5 separate regions of the Homo sapiens genome follow, and all the other regions are linked to region 4. The links come from fine-mapping of genetic effects on gene expression. A gene starts in region 4. Each other region holds a variant in brackets. All regions are shown on one strand. Distances are from middle to middle. Region 1 overlaps ACTL6B (actin like 6B). Region 2 overlaps AGFG2 (ArfGAP with FG repeats 2). Region 3 overlaps CYP3A43 (cytochrome P450 family 3 subfamily A member 43). Region 4 holds the start of LRCH4 (leucine rich repeats and calponin homology domain containing 4). Region 5 holds the start of SPDYE3 (speedy/RINGO cell cycle regulator family member E3).

Evidence for each region. PIP is the estimated chance that this variant, and not a neighbour inherited with it, causes the effect.
Region 1: its variant is fine-mapped to the expression of LRCH4 in whole blood (TOPMed, PIP above 0.99).
Region 2: its variant is fine-mapped to the expression of LRCH4 in whole blood (TOPMed, PIP 0.94).
Region 3: its variant is fine-mapped to the expression of LRCH4 in whole blood (TOPMed, PIP above 0.99).
Region 5: its variant is fine-mapped to the expression of LRCH4 in whole blood (TOPMed, PIP above 0.99). The same link has a PIP of 0.9 or more in monocytes.

What each region holds. Positions count from the first base shown.
Region 1 is chr7:100,647,225-100,653,144 of GRCh38, reverse strand. ACTL6B (actin like 6B) reads left to right here. Exons shown (of 14, transcript NM_016188.5): 5 at 3,010-3,107; 6 at 4,322-4,416; 7 at 4,483-4,589; 8 at 5,612-5,701; 9 at 5,861-5,920. Among named protein-coding and RNA genes, the nearest start is that of ACTL6B, 6.3 kb to the left of the region's middle. RefSeq lists enhancers at 2,731-3,275, 3,276-3,822. The variant A/G (reference allele first, on the strand shown) is at 2,982.
Region 2 is chr7:100,549,878-100,555,797 of GRCh38, reverse strand. AGFG2 (ArfGAP with FG repeats 2) reads right to left here. Exons shown (of 12, transcript NM_006076.5): 3 at 5,287-5,402; 4 at 2,298-2,451; 5 at 1,540-1,705; 6 at 63-188. Among named protein-coding and RNA genes, the nearest start is that of AGFG2, 14 kb to the right of the region's middle. The variant C/T (reference allele first, on the strand shown) is at 2,737.
Region 3 is chr7:99,858,157-99,864,076 of GRCh38, reverse strand. CYP3A43 (cytochrome P450 family 3 subfamily A member 43) reads right to left here. Exons shown (of 13, transcript NM_057095.3): 10 at 4,087-4,247; 11 at 2,238-2,464; 12 at 378-540. Among named protein-coding and RNA genes, the nearest start is that of OR2AE1, 16 kb to the left of the region's middle. RefSeq lists a silencer at 3,605-3,805. The variant T/A (reference allele first, on the strand shown) is at 3,153.
Region 4 is chr7:100,583,056-100,588,975 of GRCh38, reverse strand. LRCH4 (leucine rich repeats and calponin homology domain containing 4) reads left to right here and starts at 2,847. Exons shown (of 18, transcript NM_002319.5): 1 at 2,847-3,095. The coding sequence starts at 2,876. FBXO24 (F-box protein 24) reads right to left here and starts at 2,648. Exons shown (of 10, transcript NM_033506.3): 1 at 2,312-2,648. The coding sequence starts at 2,350. RefSeq lists silencers at 1,970-2,089, 2,850-3,279, 3,320-3,369 and enhancers at 3,511-4,024, 4,025-4,538, 4,804-4,963, 4,936-5,230, 4,684-5,372.
Region 5 is chr7:100,304,973-100,310,892 of GRCh38, reverse strand. SPDYE3 (speedy/RINGO cell cycle regulator family member E3) reads right to left here and starts at 3,191. Exons shown (of 11, transcript NM_001004351.5): 1 at 2,902-3,191; 2 at 1,701-1,919; 3 at 315-533. The coding sequence starts at 3,007. The variant C/T (reference allele first, on the strand shown) is at 3,058.

The sequences.
Region 1 (5,920 bases), 64 kb before region 4:
TATGTATGCTAATCAGGCCTGAGACAGGCAATACACCATGATCACCTTTCCTTTCTTGTGCAACTTTTTGTTTTCCTAGAACTGGAAAAAAAATGTGTTCAATTTTTTTTTTTTTTTTTTTTTTTTTTTTTTTTTTTTTTTTTTTGAGACGGAGTTTTGCTCTGTCACCAGGCTGGAGTGCAGTGGTGCGATCTCAGCTCACTGCAAGCTCCGCCTCCCGGGTTCAAGTGATTCTCCTGCCTCAGCCTCCTGAGTAGCTGGGACTACAGGTGCGTGCCACCACGCCCAGCTAATTTTTGTATTTTTAGTAGAGACGGGGTTTCACCATGTTGGCCGGGATGGTCTCGATCTCTTGACCTCGTGATCCACCGACCTTGGCCTCCCAAAGTGCTGGGATTACAGGCGTAAGCCACCATCCCAGCCCTGTGTTTGATTATATTTGGTCTGGTTTTCTATCTACTTAACAGTGTGAACCCTAAATCATTCATCAATTGTATCTTTTGTCAAGACGTCAATTCCATTAGATATTTTATCAATTTCTTTTTTTTTTTTTTTTTGAGACATAGTCTTGCTCTGTTGCCCAGGCTGGAGTGCCATGGCGCGATCTCGGCTCACTGCAAGCTCCACCTCCTGGGTTCTCCTGCCTCAGCCTCCCGAGTAGCTGGGACTACAGGTGCCCACCACCACATCCGACTAATTTTTTGTATTTTTTTTTTTTTTTTTGAGATGGAGTCTCACTCTGTTGCCCAGGCTGGAGTGCAGTGGTGCGATCTCGGCTCACTGAAAGCTCCATTTCTCCTGCCTCAGCCTCCCAAGTAGCTGGGACTCACACCATTCTCCTGCCTCGGCCTCCCAAGTAGCTGGGACTATAGGCACCCACCACCACGCCCGGCTAATTTTTTGTATTTTTAGTAGAGGCGGGGTTTCACCGTGTTAGCCAGGATGGTCTCCATCTCCTGACCTCGCGATCCGCCGGCCTCGGCCTCCCAAAGTGCTGGGATTACAGGCGTGAGCCACCACACCTGGCCTCTCATCAATTTCATTTCTTGAAGAAATTTCTTCAGGAGCCCACTGACCTGGTCCAGTTTGCACTAGTAGCCCTCTGCCAGGGGACAGACCTGTCATGCTGGCATCTTCCTTCACCATCATCTTGTAGAATCCTTTTGCCTCTGTCCTGGTTAGAAGTCCTGTTTCCTGTACTTGACTCCTTTTCTTGACTTATTCCTTTGTTTTCATGGAGCAGGTCCTTCAGTAACTGCCTTAGAAAGGTCATGAGAGGCCAGAGACAGTGGCTCACTCCTGTAATCCCAGCACTTTGGGAGGCCTTGAGTCCAGGAGTTTGAGACCAGCCTGGGCAATATACTGATACCTTATCTCTACCAAAAATATAAAAATTAGCTGGCCATGGTGGTGCATGCTTGTAGTACCAGCTACTCGGAAGGCTGAGGCAAGAGAATTGCTTGTACCCAGGAGGCAGAGATTGCAGTCAGCCTAGATCATGCCACTGAACTCCAGCCTGGGCGACAGAGTGAGACTCCATTTAAAAAAATAATTAATTAAATAATAATCTAAAAAAAAACTTTTTTTTTTTTTTGAGATGAAGTGTCACTCTTGTCCCCCAGGCTGGAGTGCAATGGCGTGATCTTGGCTCACTGCAACCTCCGCTTCCCGGGTTCAAGGATTCTCCTGCCTCAGCATCCCAAGTAGCTGGGATTACAGGCACCTCCCATCACACCTGGCTAATTTTTGTATTTTTAGTAGAGACGGGGTTTCACCATGTTGGCCAGGCTGGTCTCAAACTCCTGACCTCAGGTGATCTGCCCGCCTTGGCCTCCCAAAGCGCTGGGATTACAGGCATGAGCCACCGCGCCCAGCATCTAAAAAAAAAATTTAAAATAAGGTCATGGGAAGTATATTTTTTGAGACTTTTGTGTGTCTCACCTTGAGTTGATAGCTTAGCTAGGTATCCCATGCCAGGTTAGAAATCATTATTCTTCAGAATCTTGAAGGCACTTTTCCATTGTCCTTCTTCCAGCATATATCGTTGCCATTTAGAAGGATGAAACCATCTGATTTCTGATCCTCTGATGTAATGTTTTTCTTTCTGAAAGTTTATAGAATTTTTACTTTATCCTCAGTGTGGTGTATTTTCATTCATGGCTCTAGGCACTTAGTATGTCTCTTCATTCTGAAAACATATGTCTTTCAATTCAGTGAAAAAGAATTATTTATTTAATTATTTATTTCTCTCCATTTTCTCTCTTGGGATTTTCTGTTATTGGATTTTGTTGCCCCCTGAATTGGTCCCCTAATTTAATTCCCTTTTCTCTTATATTTTCCATCTCTTTACCTTTTTCCTTTGGTTTCCAAGATATTCCCTCCACTTTATGTTCCAATCCTTCTATTGAGTTTTTCATTTCTGTTCATGTAGTTTTAATTCCCACAAGCTCCTTACTTTAAATTTTTTTTTTAATGAGACAGCATCTCACTATGTTGTCCAGGCTAGTTTCGAACTCCTGGGTTCAAGCAATCCTCCTGCCTCGGCCTCCCAAAGTGCTGGGATTATAGGCGTAAGCCACCCTGTCTGGCCTGTGCAAATGTTTTAAATGCATGTGTGTGTGACTGTGAGTGTGAATATATGTGTATGTGTGTGTGTGAGTTTGTGTGTGAATGTGAGTATATATGTGTTTGACCGTGTGTTTGTGAGTGTGTTTGCATGTGTGACCGTGAGTGTATGTATAGTGTGAATGCATGTGTGTGTTTATGTGTGTCTGTGAATGTGAGTGTATGTGTGTGTGTTTGAGTGTATGTGTGTGTGTGTGCAAGTGAATGCATGTGTGTATGACCGTGAGTGTATGTGTGAGTGTTTAGGTTGTGTATGTGTGTGCAAGTGTTTGGATGTGTGTGTGTGACCGTGAGTGTATGTGTGAGTGAGTGGGTTGCGTGTGCGTGGATGTGGGTCTGTGCCTCTCCCTTCCTGA[A/G]TCCTCCCCCTCTGCACTTTCTCCACAGTGGAACACACGGGCCAAGCGGGAGAAGCTGACAGAGCTGATGTTCGAGCAGTACAACATTCCTGCCTTCTTCTTATGCAAGACGGCTGTGCTCACCGCGTATCCTCTGGACTGAGCTGCTCTGACTGGGTGGAGGGCTGGGGTGGGGCCTGTGCTGAGCTCAGCTGTGATGAGCTGGAGGGTCAGGCCTGGTTCTCTGAAGATCAGTGTCCCAATGGGCAGACACCTCCCTCTGCCCCACTAGTGCAGAAGGCCCAGTGGACTGAGCACCTCCGACTCTGGGGTGGCCAGATCAGCGGCCCCTTTCGGTTCCCCGGATCAGGCTGAGCAGACAGTGAGCTGGGCCCGGGAGAGAGTAGGGGCTGGAACTGGACAGAGGAGGGAGACGTGTAGAACACTGCGGCAGTCCCTTCCCAAGAACTCCTTCAACACTGACTGTTTTTAGGATCTGCCTTGCATTGAACCCTGTGCTATGCACTGGGGTGATAGCGACCCTAATTTCAGGGAATCTGTAGGACACAACCAAAAATAAAGGGGCTGGCCAGGCGCGGTGGCTCACGCCTGTAATCCCAGCATTTTGGGAGGCCAAGGCGGGCAGATCACTTGAGGTCAGGAGTTAGAGACCAGTCCGGCCAACATGGCAAAAGCCCGTGTCTACTAAAAATGGAAAAATTAGCCAGGCATAGTGGTGGGCACCTGTAGTCCCAGCTACTTGGGAGGCTGAGGCAGGAGAATCTCTTGAACCCAGGAGGCAGAGGTTGCAGTGAGCTATTGCATTCCAGCCTGGGCGACAAAACGAAACTCAGTTTCAAAAAAAAAAAAATAACTAAAGAAGTAACTGGGGTCGCCGGGTGTGGTGGCTCATGCCTGTAATCCCGGCACTTTGGGAGGCCGAGGCGGGCAGATCACGAGGTCAGGAGATCGAGACCATCCTGGCTAACACGGTGAAATCCCATCTCTACTAAAAATACGAAAAATTGGCCGGGCGTGGTGGCAGGCACCTGTAGTCCCAGCTACTCGGGAGGCTGAGGCAGGAGAATGGCATGAACCCGGGAGGCGGAGCTTGCAGTGAGCTGAGATTGCGCCACTGCACTCCAGCCTGGGAGACAGCAAGACTCCATCTCAAAAAAAAAAAAAAAGAAGTAACTGGGGTCTCAGAGCCTTTCTCCAGGAGATGAGTCATCACCAGGGGGAGAGATTTGCAGACTGGGGATGGGCTGGACCCCGGTAGAGCAGAGAGTGACCAGACAAGATCTGGGCCCAGGCCCCTCACTTGCTGCTGCTGTCTCTTTGACTTACCCATCCGATGCCAGCTTTGCAAACGGGCGGTCCACTGGCCTCGTGCTGGACAGTGGAGCCACCCACACCACGGCCATTCCAGTACATGACGGCTACGTTCTGCAGCAAGGTGGGGCTTCGGCAGGGGGTGGGGGTGCTCCAGGAGGACCAGGTCCTGACAGTGCCTTCCTTCTAGGCATCGTCAAGTCCCCTCTGGCAGGGGACTTCATCTCCATGCAGTGCCGGGAGCTGTTCCAGGAGATGGCCATTGACATCATCCCACCTTACATGATCGCAGCCAAGGTGGGGCCTCTGGGGACATGGAGCTGCCACTAGAGTCCTGGCCACTCGCCCCATGGCCGTCAACCCTCTGACACATGAGATATCAGAGCAGAGAGCAGCAGGCTCCCCAGTGGGTCCTGGCTCCAGTTCCTCCTTTTATAATCGAGGCATCCGAAATCCAGACAGGCTGAGGGATATGCTGAGGTCATGAAACCAGCTGGCAGACAGCAGGATGTGTGAGGGCCAGTGTGGTGGGTTCTAGGGTCCAATATAGACCCAGGTTCAAGTTCTGCCTCTGCCGTGCAAGAGCTGCAGGACCGGTCAGGCATGGTGGCTCACACCTGTAATCCCAGCACTTCGGGAGGCTGAGGCAGGCAGATCGCTTTGAGCTCACTTCGAGACCAGCCTGGGCAACATGGTGAAGCCACGTCTCTACTAAAACTGCAAGAACTAGCCAAGCATGGTGGTGCATGCCTGTAGTCCCAGCTACTTGGGAGGCTGAGACTGGAGAATCACCTGAACCCCGGAGGCAGAGGTTGCAGTGAGCCGAGATCGCGCCACTGCACTCCAGCCTGGGCGACCGAGTGAGACTCCATCTGAAAAAAAAAAAAAAAAAGAGCTGTGTGACCAACAGCATGATATCAAAGCTCCCTGGGCCTCAGGTTTGTCTTATGTAAAGTGGAACGGCAGTAGGCAGTAGCCAGGGTGCTGTGAGTATGAAGTGACACTGTGTGCTTAGCTCCATTCCGTGCCCTCACATGGATCATGACCCCCTAGGAGGCCATTCCCTTGAGGTTCTGTCACTGCTGTATTCCTGGTGTTCTCCAGATCAGCTGCACCCACCGCATGAAAGGCACACATGGAGAGAGAGGCATGCCCCATTCTCTCTCCTCTCCATCAGGGAAGGGTGAGAAACCCCTCTTGCAGGCAGCACAGCAGAGCCTGCAGCGCCAGGTAGCTGCAGAGCTGGGAACAGTGCCAGGAAGGTGGGGGTGGGGGTCAGGTGGGCTAGGAAAGGGTGTTCCTACACTGTGCCCCCACAGGAGCCTGTCCGGGAGGGTGCCCCCCCAAACTGGAAGAAGAAGGAGAAGCTACCCCAGGTCTCCAAGTCCTGGCATAACTACATGTGTAATGTGAGCCTCTGGAGAGGGCCACCTGAAACCCCCCTCCCCTGCCATGAATCGGGGGCGGGACAGAGGCCCCGCATGGGAGGGGGAGCAGGGAGGGGGAGCGGGGCAGGGGGTGCTGCTCACGGGGAAGGCAGGCCCTCACCACCTCCGCTGGGATTTCAGGAGGTGATCCAGGACTTCCAGGCCTCCGTGCTGCAGGTCTCAGACTCCCCCTACGATGAA
Region 2 (5,920 bases), 33 kb after region 4:
TTATAGACATGAACAAATGGACACGGTTGGAAGAGAAAGGAAGCCAGTGGGGCAGAGTTTACCTGCAGGAGTTGGCTGGGCCTGGAACGAGGCTTGACCAGCTGGAGGGAGGCTTCCAAACACAGAAGAGCTGGGGCCACTGCTAAAGGCATCAAAGTTGGCAAAGCCTCCTTGGGAAGGTGTCTGGCCTGTAGGTGGAAGAAACATAAAGGTTATATAGAAAATTGTCGGGTGTGGTAGCTCACGCCTGTAATTCCAGCACTTTGGGAGGCCGAGGTGGGCAGATCACTTGAGGTCAGAAGTTCAAGACCAGCCTGGTCAACATGGTGAAATCTGTCTCTACTAAAAATATAAAAATTAGCTGGGCGTGGTGGTACATGCCTGTAATCCCAGCTACCTTGGAGGCTGAGGCATGAGAATTGCTTAAACCTGGGAGGTGGAGCTAGCAGTGAGCCGAGATTGTGCCACTCTACTCTAGCCTGGGTGACAGAATGAGACTCTGACTCAAAAAAAAAAAAAAAAAAAAAAAAAAAACCACACACACACAACAGAAAAAGAAAAGAAAATGTATATGCCTATCCATGTAATATAGCTACTAATTCTAAAGGCCAAAGGCCACTCTTATGGGACATCTGCCTTTCCACAGGGTTCTCTTCAGAGGGAAATGGGTGGGGCCTGGGGCCAAGAGCCAGACCCACACAGGGGAACAGGGGCACCCAGGGCCTCCAGGTTCACTCCCTGCCCTCTTCTGTCCTTACTCCATGAGGCATTAACATTTTTGTCAGGGCCTAGTTTGGAGCATGAAAATTTTTTTTCATGGAGGAAGGAGCTTGAATTTTTTTTTTTTTTTTTTTTTTTTTGAGACGGAGTCTCACTCTGTCACCTAGGCTGGAGTCCAGTGATGCAATTGTGATTCACTGCAACCTCCACCTCCTAGGTTCAAGCAATTCTCCTGCCTTAGCCTCCCAAGTAGCTGGGACTACAGGCACATGCCACCACACTTGGCTAATTTTTTTTTTCTTTTTAGTAGAGATGAGGTTTCACCATGTTGGCCAGACTGGTCTTGAACTCCTGACCTCAGGTGATCTGCCCACCTCAGCCTCTCAAATGCTAGGATTACAGGTGTGAGCCACTGTGTCTGGCTTGAAAATTTTTAAAAAGGGAAAACAGATTCTATGCTGCTGAACCCTCTACTGGCTATTGCTGATTTGGGGGAAGAATAATCTTTGGTGAACTGGAACACATGATAATCCCCCTCCTCCCATTTTAACAGAGACAGAAAATAATAAAAAAGGCTATTTCCAGTGTTCTAAAAGGAAGTGCTAGGAGCCCTCAACTATAATGTTTTAGGATCAAACCCCCAAACATAATCCTGGCTGTACTTATTTGACCCCAGTCCTCCCAGCCTCACTGCTTCAGAGTGACCCTCACATTTGTTTGCATGAGAAGATCTAGAGCCATGGTTACCTCCAGGGACTGGATCTCTCATGTTGTAAGCATATACGCTGTAGGGAGGGTCCCATCCCAAAACCCACTTACCCCCAAAGGCAGGGAATGCAGCAAAAGCTGGTGCCATCTGGGGTGCAGCAAAGGGGTCTCCACCGATGTCAGCCAGCAGGTCAGTACTGGCTTTTTTGACAGAGGAGTGGGGAGGTGGCTGAGTGCTCCGGGCCTGGGATGTCCGAGCGTGAGACTGACTGACGGGCTTGGAGGAGAAGGAATGCATACAGCCCTTAGAATCCCAGACATGCCCCAGGCCCTCCTCTGGCTCCCCAGGTTGCCCTCAGATAGGCAGGTAGAGAGAGAAGACAGTGAGTAACTGCCCTCAACCTAGAAGATTCCTGGGCAGGAGCTGCCTTAGCCCCTCTCAGAGCTCATATCATCCTCATCTTCTCAGTACACCTGCTCCAAGAACCACACATTTTACAGCACATGAGCCAAGGTAACCCTGAGATATACAGGAATACTGCCCAATACTGCCCCCAGGGCTGTTACTCCTCAACCTTCCCAGGTATTGGACACCATATTCCAGCCCCTTCTGTGTTTCTTTGATGGAATGCTCAGGTTTGGAGCTGATATTCTGACTTTCCTAAATACCACTTCCTGTTAGGTTCTGACTTCCAAAAGATATGAGGTCCAGAAGTGACAAATACAAGATACAGGTTAACAGCAGAGCCGAGACCCAACTCACAGCTCCTGCACTGTTGTCTGCTAAGTCCGGGGAATCTGATTCAGGAAACTGACACTCCTGTCTCCCAAATCTCAAAAGAAACATGACGAGCAGATCTGAGAGTTACCTGGCTCGAGGTGGAGGCAGCAACTGAGAGAGACGGTGCAGGATCACCCAGAAGTGTCCGAAGGGGCTTCCCTTCTGGGATGGAGCCCTGCACAGGGGTGGAGGCACTGCCTTTGGTATAAGTGGGCCCCTTGACTTGGTCTGGGGGGACATACCTTTGAGAAAGAATAGTTAGGCTGTAAAGAGAGGGATAAAACTTTGGACCACGCTCAGCTGAGATGTTTGGGAAGACACAGGAGTCAAAATCTATGCTCATTTTTCTCTACTGATTCCCTTTTTTGAAGGGAACCGAGCAACTTAGCAAAGTTCTGCCTATCTTGAGCATCCCCTTGAACATCTTTTGGTTTTTTTGAGACAGGGTCTCGCTGTTGCCCAGGGTGGAGTGCAGTGGGGCAATGTTGGCTCAACACAGCCTTAACTACCTAGGCTCAAGTGATTCT[C/T]CTGCCTCAGCCTCCCAAGTAGCTGGGACCACAAACAAGTACATGCTACCATGCCTGGCTAATTTTTTAATTATTTGTAGAGAAGAGGTCTCACTATGTTGCCCAGGGTGGTCTCAACCTCTTGGCCTCAGGTGATCCTCCTGCCTTAGCCTCCAAAGTTCTGGGATTACAGGCATGAGCCACCACACCTGGCAAAGGTCCCCCTCTTTTATTTCCTGGGTGTTTCTTCAGACTCCTTCTTCTCAGCTCCATAGAAAAGCTGCCTGCCGCCTCATCCTCTAGGTGCTCACAATCCACACTTCCATCCTGCCAGCTCCTGCCGGGACAATTCCCTTCCACTACAGTGTATGTGGCCCCTACTCTGTAAGTGTCAGCTTAATCCTGAGGACATCCCTAGGAGGGACTCCACAGTGTGGTCTTATCCACATCAATCTCTTTGTTCTCTGCATTCTCTTCTCTACCTCACAGTTACCTCCCAACATGTACACACCCCAGAGATCCCACAAGAAGTGATACCAGGGGAGAGGAAAGGTAAGGGAGAATGGAGATGCTGTTTCCTTCATCAGGAAGACAAAATATAGTTGTCCCATGGTATCCTCAGGGAACTGGTTCCAGGATCCCCCTGACAATTCCATAATCAGAGGACGGGACACTCAAGTCTCTTATATAATATGGTGAAGTATTTGCATCAAATATGTATATCCTCCAATATACTTTAAATCATCTCTAGGTTACTTATAATACCTAATACAATGTAAATGCCATGCAATAGTTGCTATATTGTATTGCTTTTTATTTGTATTATTATTTTTTTTTTGAGACGGAGTTTCACTCTGTCACCCAGGCTAGAGTACAGTGGCACGATCTCAGCTGACTGCAACCACTGCCTCCCGGGTTCAAGCAGTTCTCTGCCTCAGCCTCCTGAGTAGCTCGGATTACAGGTGCCCATGACCATGCCTGGCTAATTTTTTGTATTTTTAGTAGAGACGGGGTTTCACCATCTTGGCCAGGCTAGTCTTGAACTAGTCCTGACCCTGTGATCCACCCGCCTCGGTCTCCCAAAGTGCTGGGATTACAGGCATGAGCCACCACACCTGGCCTTATTTGTATTATTTTTTATTGTTGTATTGTTATTTTTTGTGTTCCCTACTTTTTTTTTTTTTTTTTTTTTTTTTTGAGACAGTCTCTCTCTCTTTGCCCAGGCTGGAGTACAGTGGCATGATCTCAGCTCACTGCAACCTCCGCCTCCTGGGTTCAAGCAATTTTCCTGCCTCAGCCTCCAGAGTAGCTGGGATTACAAGTGTCCACCCCCACACCCAGCTAATTTTTTTTGTATTTTTAGTAGGGACGGGGTTTCACCATGTTGGCCAGGCTAGTCTCGAACTCCTGACCTCAAGTGGTCTGCCCACCTCAGCCTCCCAAAGTGCTGGGATTATAGGCGTGAGCCACCTTGCCTGGCCTATTTTCCCAAATATTTTTGATGTGAGGTTGATTGGATCCATGGTTGCAGAATCTACAGATACAGAGGGCTGACTGTACATATAAATCATGAAACAAGGCCGGGCACGGTGGCTCACGCCTGTAATCCCAGCACTTTGCGAGGCCAAGGCAGGCAGATCATTTGAGCCCAGGAGTTTCAGACCAGCCTGGGCAACGTGGTGAAACCTCATTTCTACAAAAAATATAAAAATTAAGGCCGGGCGCAGTGGCTCACGCCTGTAATCCCAGCACTTTGGGAGCCAAGGTGGGCGGATCACGAGGTCAGGAGATCGAGACCATCCTGGCTAACACGGTGAAACTCCGTCTCTACTAAAAATACAAAAAATTAGCTGGGTGTGGTGGCGGGCGCCTGTAGTCCCACCTACTCGGGAGGCTGAGACAGGAGAATGGCGTGAACCTGGGAGGTGGAACTTGGAGTGAGCCGAGATCACGCCACTGCACTCCAGCCTGGGTGACAGAGCGAGACTCTGTCTCAAAAAAAAAAAAAAAAAGAAATATATATATATATATATATATATATATATATATATAAATTAGCCAGGCATGGTGGCACACACCTGTAGTCCCAGTTACTGGGGAGGATGAGGTAGGAGGATCACCTGAGCTCCAAGAAGCTGAGACTGCAGTAAGCTGTGACTGTGGCACTGCACTCTAGCCTGGGCAACAGAGTGAGACCTTGTCTCAAAAAAAAAAAAAAATCATAAAATGATGGGTTAAAGGAATAAAACTATAGGATGTGTGCTTCCAGCCATCTCTCCCCATACATAAGATCAGCTGAGCTATAAAAATGAACACCCACAGGCCTACCTCCCGACTCCAATCAGTCTACTATCTCTCCAAAAGAGAGGACATAAAATCTGCAGGGTTAGTGACTGAGAACAAGTTGTCCTTTCATGTAGATTTATTTTAGCCGTAACTGAATGTGAGTGGAACAGAATCGACCCAAGTCTAGTCTTTTGTGAGAAGGCCAAATTCAACTCTAGAAACTGGACTGTCAGATGAAGAATGTCTTGAACACGTTTCCATAGCAACCTCTTTCCTACTCCTTACCATCTCTTCTTCTCATATTTTTCCTGGAGAAACTCCTTCACTTTCTGAGGATCCCTGGAATCTGGTACTAAAGATGTCCGAGCATCAAACAGACCCAACCAAATCTTCCGGCAAACCTAAAAGAATGAAGGTGTCAGAGGAGTGGGAGCAGAAAGCAGGAAATACAAAAAATACCACTTCCTTTTTTTTTTTTTTTTTTTTTTTTTGAGACGGAGTCTCGCTCTGTCGCCGGGCTGGAGTGCAGTGGCACGATCTCAGCTCACTGCAACCTCCACCTCCGGGGTTCAAGCAATTCTCCTGCCTCAGTCTCCCAAGTAGCTGAGACTATAGGCATGCGCCACCACGCCCAGCTAATTTTTGTACTTTTAATAGAGATGAGGTTTCACCATGTTGGCCAGGATGGCCTCGATCTCTTGACCTCGTTATCTGCCCACCTCAGCTACCCAAACTGCTGGGATTACAGGCATGAGCCACCGCGCCCAGCCACCACTTCCTATTTATTCATCAGTAAATACATATTGGCTGGATGTGGTGGCTCACACCTGTAATCTCAGCACTTTGAAAGGCCGAGGTGGGTGGATCACTTGAGTACGGGAGTTCAAGAGCAGTCTGGGCAACACAGCGAAACCCACTC
Region 3 (5,920 bases), 720 kb after region 4:
GAGTTCTAGTGGAGGAGAGCACCATTCGAAAGTCCTGACAAAGTAATCATTGCACTTCATGATTGTGCAAAAGACTTCCTCATCTTTACAGTTGACATGAAACTGAATTTAAAATTTGCTCAAGTTCACAGAGACTGAACATAATTATACCATGCTAATCTATATTGACATTAGATGATCTTTATAGTTCTGTCTTTACAAAGCCACAGATTTTGAACTCCAGAAGTGATTCATCTTTAAGCATTATGGATAGCTCCAATTAGATTCTTTGTCCTACAGAGCAAATTATTGAAAAATGAACAATAATTTTTAAAAAATGTAGACTTCTCAGTTTAAAAAACTCCCAATAAACATTATTTATAAGAAAGTTTACTGACCTGAGTCTCTTTACAAGGTTTGAAGGAGAAGTTCTGCAGTGCTCTAATGACAGCAAGTTTTATGTTTGTGAGAGCAAACCTCATGCCAATGCAGTTTCGGGGTCCAGCTCCAAAAGGTATGTATCTGTAAAGATCTATGCTGTCCTTGTTCTTCTTACTGAACCTACTTTCACAGTAGTACATAAAAACTAGTTAATGAAACATAAAAACTATTAAAACTACACGTTATGCAGGGTGTGGTGGCTTTTGGGAGGCGAGGACCTCCTTGGCCTCCCAAAGTGTTGGGATTACAGGTGTTAGCCACCACACCTGGCCGGCTATACAATTTTTGAAGGTTAAACCCATGTTTATTCAAATTTGATTCCTCAATATTTGATTATATTGTGAAAAAATTTTGATGGAGGAAAGTGATAATGCCCTTGTGGTTATGTGTTTTTAAAAGACTACTTATATTTTAGAGAAAATTCTGAAATATTTACAGGTTATTTCTTCAAGATAACATTGTAGTCACAGAGAGGATTGTGGTGGTGTGTGGACAGGGAAGCTGACATGCAGCATTGACTACTGAGACAGGTGATGAACACAGGGGGATGCATTAATACTGTTCTATAGCCTGGTGTCTATAGAATATAGTTATGTGTATGTCAAACATTCTTCACAACAGACTTTTTTTAGTATATGGATTTCTCACTGCCTGGCCCAGTTCCTGACACACGGTAACCACTTACTATCTGTTTGGTGACTGAATGATGCAAAGAGAAGTACAATGAGTGGTCTCTGATTTTGTGTTGGTGCAGCCACAGGAGGTGGAAGTGCCAAGATGGAGGAAACACAGAAGTCCTCTACTCCAGAAAACAGAGAAATTGGTCAATTCTGACTTGCTCTTCCAACAAGTATTATGTACAGAGTCTGTGCCAGCAGTAGAGACAGCATGCCTAACAAGACAAGGTCCCTGCCATTGGGAAGTTTATAGTTAGGGGCCAATAAAAGTCTAGATCCCAGGCCTCACCAGCCAGTGCCCTACAAAGTTCATTCCAAATTTTCCTTTCCAAAATGGGAAAATATCAACTATTTCCAGAGTGCAAATTGTGCCCAAAGCTTGACCTTGGCTCTGAATTCCCAGAATATCATGCCCAACACTTCCAAGGAAGAACTTCTGAGAAGTCTAGAAAGCAGGTGACTTTGCTTTGGAAGAGTCATCAACAACTGAGAGTACAAGGGAGCCGGCACAGGACTGCAGACACAAACAGGACCAGGAGAACCTCTGCTTCCCTCTGTCCTCAATGAAGTGGCTTAAACCATCAGGGATGAGGATGTCTCAGGATCTCAGCCTGCACTTTCACAGTTACATTACGGAAAACAGCAAGCAATGTTGAAAGAAAAAGGAATGTGGAAACATGTCCTAAACGTGGTGCTAAATTCAGAGAGCTAAAGGGCACAGCAAAGAAAAACTGAAATGAATAACAAGCTTATATACTCAAAATAACATTATGGTGAAATGAATTATAGCTTATGCATATAGAAATATGTAGTAACGTAAGATAGTAGATAGGTAATGGTTTACTTTGAAATGAAGTAAGCAGCAGTTCAAACTCAAATAAAATGTGATAGTATACTAGTTTTTAAAAATGTCTATGCATAGAAAAATGCCTACAAGACAGGCATTACATAGTTAATGAGGGTTGTTATAAGGTGTTTCTTAATCTATGGTTTGTAAAGTTTAACAGTTATCATTTTGTAATAAAAAACTTCCAAAATGAAAAGGCACATATTCAAATGATTGCCATGTGCATCGAGAGAGGCAGAATATACTTGAATCAGGCTGGTTGAGGGAAGGCTCCTTTCCCAGGGGCCTTGTACCTTTCAGGGCAGAACTTCTCAGGCTCTGTCCAGTACTTTGGGTCATGGTGAAGAGCATAGATTGGAACCATCACTGCTAACCCTTTGGGAATGAACACTCCATTGATTTCAATATCTTTCTTGCAGACTCTCGTAACTCTACTAACAACTGGGAATAATCTGAGCGTTTCATTCACCACCATGTCAAGGTACTCCATCTGTACCAGGGCATCGTAGGTGACAGGTGCCTGGGAAGAAAGAAACAGATTTGGATAAATTGAGATTGGGAATTAACTTTCAACTTAGTCCATGCAGTACTATTGAAGTGTTAGGAGCTCCAGAGAATAATTCATTCTGGTAAAAGATTGTTGCATTTATAAATTATTTTAATAATTCTCCATACCCAGTGATGTGCTCGATGGCCCATTGAGATGTGTGGAGGAGTTATGAATTTGGCACAATCACTTACACAGAGACTGAAATCCTTGACATTACCATTTCGTGTTTTTTCTTTCTTGGGAGAACAAACATGACTAATAGACGATGGCCATTTGAATCACCTAAAATATGCCAAAGCCAGTGTCACCTTTCCAAAGAGAGGCTATGCATCTGTACCAAGGAAAAAGAAAATGTAAAAAGCAAATCCTCTATTTCATACAAGCATTTAAAATGGAAAAGTCCTGTTTAGGCCAGGCATGGTGGCTCATGCCTATAATCCCAACACTTTGGGAGGCCAAGGTGGGTGGATCACTTGAGGTCAGGAGTTTGAGACCAGCCTGGCCAACATGGTGAAACCCTGTGTCTACTAAAACTATAAAAATTAGCCGGGCATAGTAGCGCACGCCTGTAATCCCAGCTACTCAGGTGGCTGAGGCACGAGAATCACTTGAACCCTGGAGGCGGAGGTAGCAGTGAGCCGAGATCACCCCACTGCAG[T/A]CCAGCCTGGGCGACGAAGCAAGACTCCATGCAAAAAAAAAATGTGGAGAGTAACACTATGTTATATAAAAACCCTATAAATAGTTTGGGGATAAACTAGTTCTTTTGTAACCCAAATATGACAAAAGAACTTTATAACTGGACAGGGCACACAATTTCAGTGCTACTGAGAGTTGTAAACAGGATAGGAACCCTCCGGGCAGCCCCATCCTGTCTTTCTCGAACAATTTCCCACTTGTTCCTTCAGGCCTGGACTATGAACTTAGATGAACATTCCTTTGTGTTCACCTCACTGCCAAACCAGGGCCAGCCCCAAGGCCAGATCTCGTTACACCATAAAGAATTCCAATTTGGGCAGAATTCTGGAAACAGTGTGGGTAATACGTGGCTAGCATTTGGTGTTATATTTGGAAGGTAATATTGTAGAGGTTAAATGTTTGGCCCAGGCGTCAGGCACCCTGGGTCCTAGCTTGGCTTCTTCACCACTAGCTACTTGACTGGAGCAGAGAGAGGTGTGAGGCAGAGCTGAGTCAGCCTGCCCAGCGCACCCAGGGCCAGGTTCCATCAGACCACTGCCAGACCACAGCGAGTCCAGCCAATATCAGCAGAGCTCACTATCCAGACTTGTGAGCAATAAATGATTGTTTTTAGTTGTCATTGAGATTTCTGGATATTTTTTACTTGGTGTTATGTTGCTAACAGACAACGGATGCAGCAGGACCAGCACTGTTTCACAAAGATCTTACACTTACGCAAGAAGCATCCACTACCTACGATTCTCCCTTTGTTTTTACTCTTTACAGCCTTTCTGCATAGTGTAAATGAAAGAACTGATGCTTACGCTTTTTGCAAAAATTGTCCTGGCAAGTGGTGAGGAGGCATTCTTGCTGAGGCTTCACCTTCTCCCTCCTTCTCCAGGGGATCATCCCCTTACCTTATTGGGTAAAACTGCGTCAATCTCCTCCTGCAGTTTCTGCTGGACATCAGGGTGAGTGGCCAGTTCATACATAATGAAGGGGAGAGTGGTGCTAGTTGTGTCATAGGCAGCAAAAATGATGATAATTGACTGGGCCACAAGCTCCAGATCAGACAGAGCTGAAAGGAGAGGAAATATATTTTAGGAAAAGTGGTTAGTGTAGAGCATCACAGTTTAGATGAAGCAAAATTCCAGTGAAGCTCCCAAATCCCTAAGAGCAAAAATAGAAAAGCAATTCAGAGTCACACTGCGGGTGGCTTCACTCTGATGTGTATCCTACAGAGCCAGAATAAGGCAAAGTCACTTTAATCCAGTTTTTTTTCCAGGGTCTACACGATTGTGGGCCATTCACTCCTCATCATACCATCCCCACCAGCTGCACAGCTGGGTAACTTTCAAAGAGAGCATTTCTGTCTAACATACTCAGTGTTATAGGGATGTCCCTTGGATAATCATAGAAGTTCTTTATCTATAAGTAAACGTGGAGTAACATTCTCCCCAGGGAAGATTTAAATTACTCTAGCTACAATATAGCTTGACAAACAATGAGACAGTTTGCAATACTAAGGCTTGATTTTAGGGAAATATAAAGGAACTTTTCTCTAAGCATGTTTGCGGGAACCCAAGGGAAGAATATTGGGCTCTTGCCACTCAAAATGTGGTCCATGGACCAGCAGCACCAGCAGCATCTGGGAGCTTATCAGAAATGCAGAATCTCAAACCCTACCCTCAAACTGCAGAATCAAAATCTGAACTTTCATGAGATGTGGTAATTTGTGAGCCCAGCATGGCTTGAGAAGCATGGATTACATCTTTGAGTGACATCAAGTAATAGAGTTCCTAGGGCACTAGTCTTCAAAATGGATGACCTCTGGATATACGAAAGCTACAGAGACAAAAATCTAGAAGTGAGGTGATTGACTGTAGTCCAATGAGTGGTTTTAATAAAACAGGCTGGGCACAGTGGTGCAAGCGTGTAATCCCAGCACTTTGGGAGGCTGACACAGGAGGATCATTGAGGTCAGGATTTTGAGACCAGCCTGGCCAACATGGTGAAACCCCATCTCTACTAAAATTACAAAAAAACCCACAACTGGGTGTGGTGGTGGGCACCTGTAGTCCCAGCTACTCGGGAGGCTGAGGCAGGAGAATTGCTTGAACCTGGGAGGCAGAGGTTGCAGTGAGCCAAGATCAGACCACTTCACTCCAGCCTGGGTGACAGAGTGAGACTCCATCTCAAATAATAATAATAATAATAATAATAATAATAATAATAATAATAATAATACAGCAGGAAGAATGCATGTATAGATGGGCATTGGCCAACATGAAATATAAAAACAATAGGGTCTAGTGAGTGGAATTCATAGTGCCTATTCCATCCTGGCCCGAATAGCATCTTCCTTAGTACATGCCCATTCTCTCTGCTCCACTTCATGCTCACCGAACAGCATTTATGACTACAGGTTTGCCTCCCTCTTGATATTTCTCCCAAGAAAAGCTTAGCACAGTCAGCCATTGGTCTGTTTGATCAGGACTGGATTAAGAACTTTAGAGACCTAGGGTACTAAAATAAATATGGTGCCCACTCCAACCATGTATTTCATAACTGAAAACAATACAAGATGAGTGTGAGAAAGGTCTACAGAGTTGTGATTTACTGGTGATAATTTTCATGATGATGTTGTGGGTAAATTCAACTTTCCAATTATTTTATTCAGTTGGCATGAACCCCAGGACATGGAATTGAAATGAAATCATAATCTCAAAGTGTAGATCTGCTACCCAGTAG
Region 4 (5,920 bases):
TGATGCACCCCTGTAGTCCCAGCTACACAGGAGGCTGAGGCAGGAGGATTGCTTGAGCCCAGTTTGAGGCAGCAGTGAGCTATGATCGTGCCACTGCACTCCAGCCCGGGCGAGAATGATACCCAGTTTCAAAAAAAACAAACAAAAAAGAAGACTGCTTTTGCTTTCCTGAGGGACAGTAACATCATTGCATGTATAAAGGACAACCTATTAAGGTGGGAGAAAGGGATGGATTTCCTCTGAAAGCTTAGGATTTCTCCCAGGGTCTCTGATATTAGCTTTGTCTTATGTGGGGTGACATTTATCAGGAGAAACAGCAGGGGTCAGGGTTGTGTCTGTCCCACTCAGGCCAGATCTACACCAATAAATCCAAGGAGTGGCTGGCTCTTGCAGGGGCTCAAAGGAGTCCCATCCTGCCAGACCACCAGCCCTCACCACACAGTGTCACAGATCCGTTCATTGACTGCACCAGACTGACCACCCAAATTCCCTTATGTATGGTGCCTAGCCATGGCTAGGCTGGGATGCCTGAGATGGAATTTTAATTCTTCAGCAACTACTCAGGAATATCAACCTCTGAGATGTGAACTAAGGAGAAAGCAACTTCAGTGACTTATTTCTGGGCAACCTACCACATAGGGAGGGGACTGCATTAGGGACTCATGCCACTTAGAAAGGAAGATCTCCAAGTAGACAGAAAGGTATTTTCCATTCCTCTTGCATTTGGGTCCCCTTTATCCACTCCATTTCACCCCAGGAGGCAAACGAGAGGTTGTGAATAGAAAAAGTCCACTGTGGGCCAGGCTTTGTGGCTCACGCTTATAATCCCAGCACTTCGGGAGGCCGAGGTGGGAGCATTGCTTGAGCCCAGGAGTTTGAGATCAGCCTGGGCAACATAGTAGGACCCTGTCTCTACAAAAAATACAATTAGCTGGCATGGTGGTGCGTGCTTGTAGTCCCAGTTACTCGGGAGGCTGAGGTGGGAGGTTGAGGCTGCAGTGAGCTGCGATCAAGCCACTGCACTCCAGCCTGGGCAACAGAGCGACTCTGTCTCAAAAGAAAGAAAAAGTCCACTGTGGGCCGGGTGCGGTGGCTCACGCCTGTGATCCCAGTACTTTGGGAGGCAGAGGCAGGATCGCTTGAGGTCAAAAGTTTGAGACCAGCCTGGGCAACATAGCAAAACCCCATCTCTACAAAAATTGAAAATAAATTAGCCAGGTGCAGTGGTGCCGCCCGTGGTCCCAGCTACTTGGGAGGCTGAGGCAGGAGGATCACTTGAGCCCAGGCATTCAAGGCTGCAGTGAGCCATGACTGCACCACTGCACTCCAGCCTGGGCGACAGAATCAGACCTTCTTAAAAAAAAAAAAAAAAAGGCCGGGCGCGGTGGCTCACGCCTGTAATGCCAGCACTTTGGGAGGCCGAGGAGGGCATATTGCCTGAGCTCCTGAGTTTGCGACCAGCCTGGGCAACACGGTGAAACCCCGTCTCTACTAAAATACAAAAAATTAGCCGGGTGTGGTGGCGGGCGCCTGTAGTCCCAGCTACTCGGGAGGCTGAGGCAGGAGAATTGCTTGAACCCGGACAGTGGAGGTTGCTGTGAGCCGAGATCGCGCCACTGCACTCCAGCCTGGGCGACTGAGCGAGACTCCATCTCAAAAAATAAAAAAATAAAAAGAGGAAGGGAACGGAAGGGAGAGGGAGGGAGGGAGGAAGAGAGGAAGGGAGTGAAAACATCCACTGTGAAAACTGAGGGAGCGGGAAAGGGCTGTGCGTGGAGGATCCAGAGACCTGGTTTCTAGAGCAAGCCAGCTGTCAGGAACTTGCTGTTCGCTCTTGCTAACGCATCAACTTCCCTCTGCCTCAGTTTCTGCATTCGTAGCACCAAGGGCGTGTTCTAGGCGGTGAGATCCTTTCTAAGCCTCTAAAACCCCGTGGTCTGGTCCCCTCTCCATTCCTGTCCAGGGGAGCTCCTCGGGTGAGACGGCAGACCGTGCAACGCTGCACCTACACCCTCCCTCCTCGAGCTGGGCATCTCCAGGCTCTGGGAAGCCCCCCGCCCGCCCCCAGCCCGGGGGTCCCGAGACCCCTGCCAGAGGCTTCACAGTCGGAGGTCCCCCCGCTGCCCCTTCAGCTGCGACAACCGCCAGTGCACTGGCCTCAAGCAGTCGCCCGAATCCCCTCAAGCCCTGGACGCCGGCTAGCCCCCTAACACGTCCAGCTCGCACTCGCCACTGCAGCGGCGAACTGCGTTCCCGGCCGGCCAGGGGCTCCGCGTTCATTCTTAACCTCAGTCTTAAAGTTCTAGCTCACCCGCCTCCTCCTTAGCAAAGGGACCGCCTTCTCGCCCATGCTATTGGTAGGTAGAGCCGTCCCTCAGAGAAGAGGCAGGTCCAGATTCCCTTCGGAGGCTCTAATTGGCCTTCTTGACAGTCACTCGCCTGTATCTGGCTTACGATTGGTCTTTGGGGGACGAGGACTAGGCACCCCCTGCTTGCGGTCCCTCGGCCCGTTTTCCTGCTAGTGGAGTGCCGGTGTCCCCTCCTCTTGGTTGGACCTGATTGGCTCCACCTCCCGATCTGAGCATTGTGATTGGGTGCAGCTGCGCTGGGCGGGACGGCCTGGAGCGTCGGCCGTTGGCGAGCGCTCTATCCTTGTTCCCCTCCCTTCTCTCGTCAGACTCCGGCGCCGGAGCTCCACCCCCACTGACGGGTTCTGATTGGCCGCTTCTGACGCGTCTCGGGGCCACGATTGGTCCGTCCGGTCCCGGACACCGCTCCCTCCCCCTTGAGGCAACTACGGCGGCTCCAAGGAGGGGGTGGGGGAAGGAGGGACGGCCGGTCCCGTCAGTCAGGCAGCGGGAGCCGCCGGGAGCGGATGGCGGCGGCCGTAGCGGCTCCACTCGCCGCCGGGGGTGAGGAGGCGGCAGCCACGACCTCCGTGCCCGGGTCTCCAGGTCTGCCGGGGAGACGCAGTGCAGAGCGGGCCCTAGAGGAGGCCGTGGCCACCGGGACCCTGAACCTGTCTAACCGGCGCTTGAAGCACTTCCCCCGGGGCGCGGCCCGTAGCTACGACCTGTCAGACATCACCCAGGCTGGTGAGTGCAGCCGGGCCCCGGGCCCAACCGGGTCCCTCATTTGCATAGCCCCACCCCGGGCCCCGCCCGGCCCGGGAGTCGGGCCCGCCCCTTCACCTGGCGGCCAGGGTTGCTGCCCCTCCTGATTGCCCTAAACCTGCAGCCATCCTCTCCCATCTTTGAGAACCCCCTAGACAATGAACGTGCTTCTCGTTTGCACAGAACGCCCTGCGCCTCCGAGCGTTGGGAGAGATTCCTCCTTTCTCTTTATTTGCATATCTGCGCACCTGTAGGATGGTCCCGCCCCTCACCTGGTTGGCTTATTTACATGATCTCTTAACCTCAGCTCCAATCGGTCTATGAAGCAGTCCCCACGAGCTCCTCTAATAACTGCTTTCTCTCCCTCTTCATCTACACCTCTTAACCCCCGTCCCACCGAGATCCGAGCAGCCCCGGGCACCCCCTTCCCAGTGACTGGCCCCTAAGCCCGAGGTTTCTGCTTTCTGTGCCGCAACCCCGCCCCCTAAGGTCCTGGCCCTCTCCACTGTCCACGCAGCTCTCCAGCCTATGGGAAAGAAACAAATCTCTACCTCCCCTCACTCTTTTCTCCCTGAGCTCTTCCGCCTATTATCCCCAACCGGCTTATCTGAGATTCCTCCTCCTCCTTCCTAAGCCTGTGAGGTCACTGTGGAGCCTGTGACCTCATAGGGATCTTAGAATTCCCATTTCAGTTTCTGCTTTCCCCCGGGGGAGGGACTTGAGGCCGTTGCTGGAGGGAAGGAAATCTTATCTCCTAGCTGGGAGTGCTGGCCAGCTAGAGACTGTCCTTCCACGCCTCCACCCGCAGGATCTGTCCAACCATGCACCCTCCACCCTGGTGTCTGTGGATGGTAGGGGGTGGGGGACTTAACTGTGACAGGTGAGTCAAGCCTCAGCTACTCAGGAGGCAGCCTATGACCTTGGGCCGGCAGCTGGGGGTGGGGATCAGGATCAGGGAGGAGGACTGCATTCCCGAAGCCTCACCCCAGCCCAGGCCTCTTCCTCCTCTCATCTGCACGGTGGGGGACCAGAGCTGGAGGATAGTGCTTACTTCTCCCTAAGCAGGTGCCTGCTCACCTGGGAACACTCAGGCCGGCACTGGCACACATCCTCTTCCCTCTTCTGGGGAGAACCAGTCGAAACCTCCCCACTGATCTCGCCTGCTCTGCAACACTTGAGATGGGGAATGAGTGAGCTCCAGGAGCCATTCCTGCCCCTTACAGCCCTGTTCCCTCCCACCCCCACCTAACCCCACACTCCAGATTGACCTCAGCAGCTGTGTGACACTCACTGTCTGTTCCCTTCCCCTCCCCCTTGGTTGTTTTTTGACAAAGACCAAATGTTATTCTTTACTTCCTTAGGCTGTCTCTCCCTGTGTGGACTCTTGGGGAAAACTACCCGGAGCTCCCCGGCCCCTCCCAGCTCCCGCCCCCGGCCCCCTCCTCCCCCAGCATTCCGGCTCAGGGTGCAGCCGTGCTCCTGTGAGCTTGGGGGGGGGTCGGAAATCCCAGCTTCCCAAGAACCCTCCTCTGCCCCACTCTCTACACAGGGCCCAGGTTCTAGGCCAAGTGGGGTCCCTCTTGTCCAGAATTCTCTCCTCTGTCCCCTCTCCGCAAGCAGGGACAGAAAGGGGAAGTGACAAAAACATACAGTTGCCCATACCCTGCCCTCCATCTCTCCTCGCCCTCCAAGCAGACGAAAAGCATCAGTGCCTTGCTGCCCGGACTGCCTTGAGCCTTCCCCTCCCGTCTCCCATCTCTTTCTGAGTGTCTTCGCTGCGTGTCGCCTAGTCTTGGGTCCCTGATCTCCCTTGGACTAGGCTCCCTGGGGTGATAGTAGGAAGAATCCTGAGGTGGCGGGGAGGGGCCATCTTGCAAAGGAGAAGTGCAGCTCATTCTCTCCCAGACCACATCCTGTGCCCCCAGTGCCCTGCCTCCTGCCTGAGCTCCCTTCCGCTCCTAGCTTTTGTCCCCGCCACCGCCTACCCCATCAGAACTCTGAGAACTCGGTCTCCACCCCCTTCGTCCACATGCACACACACAAACACATTTGCAGAGAAAGCGGGCAGGTGGAGGCGAGGCTGGGAGGGGCAAATGCCATCCCCCCACCCTCTCCAGAACGGTCATCTCTGAGGCCAGGGCTTCTGTCTGTGCACCAGGGCTGGGCAGAGAGGAAGAGAAAGGGGTCCCGGGGCATCAGGCTGTCATCCACCCTGGTAAACACGGGGCCTACCAGAGCCAGAACCTGACAGATTGTTTCTACTTCATTTCCTGTCACAAGACTCATTTCCTTGGGGGATATACCCGGCTTCTCTCCTCTGCTTGCTTTTGCTGGCCTGCCCTTCCCTGAGAAGGGCCCTTGGAGAAGCTCACCAGGTCTGTGGCCTGGGACTCCGCCTCGCGGGCCCTGGGCCCCTCCCAGGACAGGCTGGGCCGAGGAAACAGAAAGGCAGGCTTCTCCAGGTCTAAGCCGTTAGTGGGTCCGTGCTACAGGGAATCCCAAGGCTGCCAGCCTCCGCATAGCAAGGCAGTGCTCCAGATAAGAGGGCGATTGTAGACCCCAGGCCCTCCCACACTCTCCACCCTCGCCGTGCCTGAGATGCTCACACAGTTGCTGATCTCTTGAAGTCTGTGTCAGTAAGAGAGGAAGCAGAGCCGGGCTGCTAGGGCTAGCAGAGGGTAGGAAGGATGCCTGCCCTGGGCCAGAGAAGCCCAGATGGGAGGGACCTGGGAACTCCAGCTCCCATCTCCAACCAGGTCTTCTTGCCCTTCCCTCCCAGCCCTTGGGAATCAGTAACTTTATGATTC
Region 5 (5,920 bases), 280 kb after region 4:
CTCACTGCAGCCTCAAAGTCCTGAGTTCAAGCAATCCTCTTGCCTCAGCCTCCCAACGTGCTGGGATCTCAGGCGGGAGCCACAGCGCCTGGCCCAAAACCAAGCTTTCTTATCCCAAGCACCGACCTTTATCAAGTCTACCTAATCCTCTGTTGTCTCCTAAGTGTCCCTCATGAGTGATCACTTCAGAGTCCTCCCGCATGGAGAGCTCACCCACTGGGGCATATTTTTCCCATTGGAAAAGTGTGGTTATTGGAAGTTTCCTCTTTTTAGAAAGAACAGGATTGGAGGTGCTCTCTGGGGTGTCCTCCTACCAAGCAGCCTGTTGAAGGCCTCGTAGTACTCAGGGAGCACGAGCGACACTCGCCGTCGCTTCGCCTTCATCTTGAGGCCACACAGCGTCTCCGCCACCCAGGTCTCCTCAGGCTCAGGGGCGAGCTCCTTCTCTGGCTCATCATCAGATTCATCCAAACACTCCCTCTTCCTTTTGCAGCCAAGGGACCTACGTGGGGGGCTGGGATCTACCCCAGGGGCTGAGTAAAGAAACCAGGCCACCGTGTAATGCTTCTGCAACTGATCACGTTAGACCCCGACCCCAAACCCCAAACCACTCTCCATCCTCCCCAGCCTCTCAGACTGCTGGCTTCTCCAAGCCACCTTTCTGACTTTCTCCTCTGCTCAACCCCATGTGCCACTCCTTCCCCTCCCCATTCTTCCCTCTCTCTGTCCTCAGAACACTGCGTCATATCGTTCCCTGGTCCCTGGCTCTCTGAGGCCCTCTTTTTTTTTTCTGTTTCGAGACAGAATCTTGCTTTGTCACCCAGGCTGGAGTGTAGTGGTGCAATCTCAGCTGACTGCAACATCTATCTCCCGGATTCCAGTTATTCTCCTGCCTCAGCCTCTCAGGTAGCTGGGATTACAGGTGCCTGCCATAATGCCCAGCTCAATTTTGTACTTTTAGTAGAGACGGGGGTTTCACCATGTTGGCCAGGCTGGTCTCAAACTCCTGGCCTCACGTGATCCACCTGCCTTGGCTTCCCAAAGTGCTGGGATTACAGGTGTGAGCCACTGCACCCAGCCTGAATTTCTCCATTCTTCCCACACACCCTCCCCAGGTTCTCCTTCCTGACCTCTGACCCTTCTTTTTTTTCTTCTTTTTTTTTTTTTTTTTTGAGACAGCGTCTCACTCTCTCACCCAGACTGGAGTGCAGTAGCACGATCTCGGCTCACTGCACCCTCTTCCTCCCAGGCTCAAGCGATTCTCCTGTCTCAGCCTCCCGAGTAGCTGGAACTACAGGCATGAGCTACTGTGCCCAGCCTTGGTTTTTCTTTTGACGCAGAGTTTTGCTCTGTCACTCAGGCTGGAGTGCAGTGGTGCAGTCATAGCTCACTGCAGCCTCGAAGTCCTGAGTTCAAGCAATCCTCTTGCCTCAGCCTCCCAACGTGCTGGGATCTCAGGCGGGAGCCACAGCGCCTGGCCCAAAACCAAGCTTTCTTATCCCAAGCACCGACCTTTATCAAGTCTACCTAATCCTCTGTTGTCTCCTAAGTGTCCCTCATGAGTGATCACTTCAGAGTCCTCCCGCATGGAGAGCTCACCCACTGGGGCATATTTTTCCCATTGGAAAAGTGTGGTTATTGGAAGTTTCCTCTTTTTAGAAAGAACAGGATTGGAGGTGCTCTCTGGGGTGTCCTCCTACCAAGCAGCCTGTTGAAGGCCTCGTAGTACTCAGGGAGCACGAGCGACACTCGCCGTCGCTTCGCCTTCATCTTGAGGCCACACAGCGTCTCCGCCACCCAGGTCTCCTCAGGCTCAGGGGCGAGCTCCTTCTCTGGCTCATCATCAGATTCATCCAAACACTCCCTCTTCCTTTTGCAGCCAAGGGACCTACGTGGGGGGCTGGGATCTACCCCAGGGGCTGAGTAAAGAAACCAGGCCACCGTGTAATGCTTCTGCAACTGATCACGTTAGACCCCGACCCCAAACCCCAAACCATTCTCCATCCTCCCCAGCCTCTCAGACTGCTGGCTTCTCCAAGCCACCTTTCTGACTTTCTCCTCTGCTCAACCCCATGTGCCACTCCTTCCCCTCCCCATTCTTCCCTCTCTCTGTCCTCAGAACACTGCGTCATATCGTTCCCTGGTCCCTGGCTCTCTGAGGCCCTCTTTTTTTTTTTTTGTTTCGAGACAGAATCTTGCTTTGTCACCCAGGCTGGAGTGTAGTGGTACAATCTCAGCTCACTGCAACATCCATCTCCCGGATTCCAGTTATTCTCCTGCCTCAGCCTCTCAGGTAGCTGGGATTACAGGTGCCTGCCATAATGCCCAGCTCAATTTTGTACTTTTAGTAGAGACGGGGTTTCGCCATGTTGGCCAGGCTGGTCTCAAACTCTTGGCCTCACGTGATCCGCCTGCCTTGGCTTCCCAAAGTGCTGGGATTACAGGTGTGAGCCACTGCACCCAGCCTGAATTTCTCCATTCTTCCCACACACCCTCCCCAGGTTCTCCTTCCTGACCTCTGACCCTTCTTTTTTTTCTTCTTCTTTTTTTTTTTTTTTTTTTGAGACAGCGTCTCACTCTCTCACCCAGACTGGAGTGCAGTAGCACGATCTCGGCTCACTGCACCCTCTTCCTCCCAGGCTCAAGCGATTCTCCTGTCTCAGCCTCCCGAGTAGCTGGGATTATAGGCACACACCACTACCGCCTGGCTAATTTTTGTACTTTTAGTAGAGATGGGGTTTCACCATGTTGGCCAGGCTGGTCTTGAACTGCTGACCTCAGGTGATCTGCCCGCCTCGGCCTCCCAAAGTGTTGGTGTTACAGGGGTGAGCTACCGCACCTGGCCCCCTTCCTTCGTCTTAGTCAATCCTATGCCACCTCTTCTTCCTCCAGTCCCCTCACCTGATGGTCCCGACACTTCATCATCCACCACCTCCTGGAGGGGGTACCCTGAGGTGCTCCGCTGGGGGCTCTGCTCTTCCTGGGGCTGCGGTTGATGGCTCGTCATGATCTTTCCCAAAATCTGTCCAATCTCACCGAAGCTAGTCTCTGTTCTGT[C/T]CTTGGTCTTCTTCTGGACACTGCTGGGATCCAGAAGAGTGTGTTATCAATTCTCGAGGCTGGGAGAAGTCAGGAGTGGAGAACAGCTCTGAGAAGTTACTGTTGTTCACCTGAACTGCCAGGCGCCGACAGAGTCCGGTCCTTCCAATCAGGAAGGTCGGAATCTCTGATGTCATAGGTCATTCCAACCTGGCAACCAGTTTGAACAAAAACACATGTAACTGCCAGGCTGATCTCTTGTCCTGGAGATCCTGGGTGAATGGTATCTCCTGCCACTGTCCCAACCTCAGACCACTGTCCAAAAGCATCTTCAGGGTCTCCGCATCCCTCTGTTCCCTGTCCCAGCAGAGGCTGTGTCCTCTCCACTCAAAGCTTGAAGCGTGTTGGGGTCTCCTCTTCTCTGTACATGCCCGTTTCAGAGTCCAGTCTGGTGGGAGAGGGATCAGGATGGGAAAGAAAACTAGGGTAAGCAGAAACGATGAAACCTTATAAGAGTGAGAGTATCATGTACAAGAGATCCCAGGAACATTGACTTGATGAAAAAGTCACATCAGAGCACTCAATTTGGCAGAGCTTTTCTGCCGAATGTTTACTGATATTCACTGTCCGAGATTCTGTACTGGGTGTAACGTGTCCTCTGCCCTAAGGCATCTTTGAGTCCAAGAGATATTTTGAGGACTGGAAATCATCGGAAACTGCCCATGAGCTCACACATATTTCCAATGGTGTCCCCAGTTTCAGGGAGTCCACGGATCACCTAAAGCCAGCCCCTCCAGTTTGGCTAAGAAACTCTATATATCAAGTTTTGTATCATATGTATTGCTCTTAACTCAGAAATTCCACCATTTATAGCAGTGGTTTATTTATTTATACTATTGAAGGAAATGGTTTATTTATGAATCTATATTATGGATATTCTATAAGATACTGGGTGTACAAAAAGACTAAGTCGAAAAATCTCAGCTGTGCACAGTGGCTCATGCTTGCAATCCCATCTCTTTGGGTGGCCAAGGGAGGAAGACTGCCTGAGGCCAGCAGTTCAAGACCAGTGTAGGCAACATAGCAAGACCCCATCTCAAACAAAACAAAACAAAACAGAACAAAATTAGCCAGGTGTCGTGGCTGGCACCTGTGTTCCAACAACTTGAGAGACTGAGGTGGCAGGAGGATTGCTTGAGCCTAGGAGTTAGGGGCTGCAGTGAGCTGTGATCGTGACACCGCACTCCAGTCTGGGCAACACAGCAAGACCTTGTGTCAAAAAAATTTTTTTAATTAAATATAAAAGAGTTTCATGACATTCAGAGACCATCCAAAGAACCTGTGGGTTCCGGCCAGGCACAGTGGCTCACGCCTGTAATCCCAGCGCTTTGGGAGGCCATAGCAGGTGGATCGCTTGAGGTCAGGAGTTTAAGAGCAGCCTGGCCAACATGGTGAAACCCCATCTCTTCTAAAAATACAAAAAATTAGTCAGGCATGGTGGTGGGTGCCTGTAATCCCAGCCACTCAGGAGGCGGGGGCAGCAGAATGGCTTAAACTTGGGAGGCGGAGGTTGCAGTGAGCCAAGGTCGCACCATTGCACTCCAGCCTGGGCAACAAGAGCAAAACTACATCTCAAAAAAAAAAAAAAAACAAACAAAAAGAACCTGTGGATGAGTTCCCACATGGCTTCCTAACGGGCTGCGGCTCTCCTAGGAGTCTCTCGCTCATGGGAAAGGCACAAACTGAATGTGGAAGGAAATCCCATTGCTGTGGAAGTCCCATTGTTAGGAAGCTCTGCTTTTCTGGAGTTCAAATTTGCATTCATGACGCTTTAAACCGTCAGAGCTGGGTGTGTCCTCCTACAACAAATCACTTTACTCTCTCTCTCTCCTAGTTAACAGGCTTTCAAATATTAGAACATCCATGTTCTGACCTCATTAAAATTGCTCTTTTGTGGAATGAAAAGCTCTGATTTAACCCGTCTTTAAGCCTGGTATGCATATTCCTCTCTGTTCCGGCCACCTTGTCTAGACACACTACACTGAGGCAGTGCCCATCTTAGATGATGTTGATACATTGTCAAAAAATGGGCAAACCAGGCGCGGTGGCTCACACTTGTAATCCCAGCACTTTTGGAAGCCGATGCCGACAGATAACCAGAGGTGAGGAGGTTGAGATCAGCCTGGCCAACATGGTGAAACCTGTCTGTTTTTCTGTAAAAATACAGAAACAATGAGCTGGGTGTGGGAGTGCACTTCTGTAATTCCAGCTACTTGCGGGGCTGAGGCAGGAGAATCACTTGAACCGGGATGGTGGAGGTTCCAGTGAGCCGAGATCACGACACTACACTCCAGCCTGGGCGACAGAGTGAGACTCCGACTCAAAAAAAAAAAAAAAGTGCCAGACAGCCCAGGTTTGGTCTGATATGTTCAGAAAAAAGCAAAACAGTCACCTCTCACCTTTTCTTTTCCTGCAATGATGCCGTTTAATACAACAATGGCTGTAGGTCTGCGGCAGAAATATCATTCAAGTGAAACAGAAGGGCTTTCCTGGCTGGACACAGTGGTCACTCCTGCAATCCCAACACTTTGGTTGGCTAAGGTGGGAGGATTTCTTGCGGCCAGGAGTTCGAGGCTGCAGTGAGCTGTGATCTACCACTGCATTCCAGGCTGGGCATCAGAGTGAGGCCTGTCTCTAAAAAAAACCCTTCACTCCCCAAAAAAAGGGATTTTCAAATACCAGCCTTTCAGCATGAGGATCACATGGAGGAACATTAAGACACAGATGCTGGGACCCAGCCCTATTGATTGTAATTAAAAAACTGAGGTGAGGCCTGATTTAGCTCCATCATTGGAATCCATTCAGATTTGAAATTCTCTGAGTT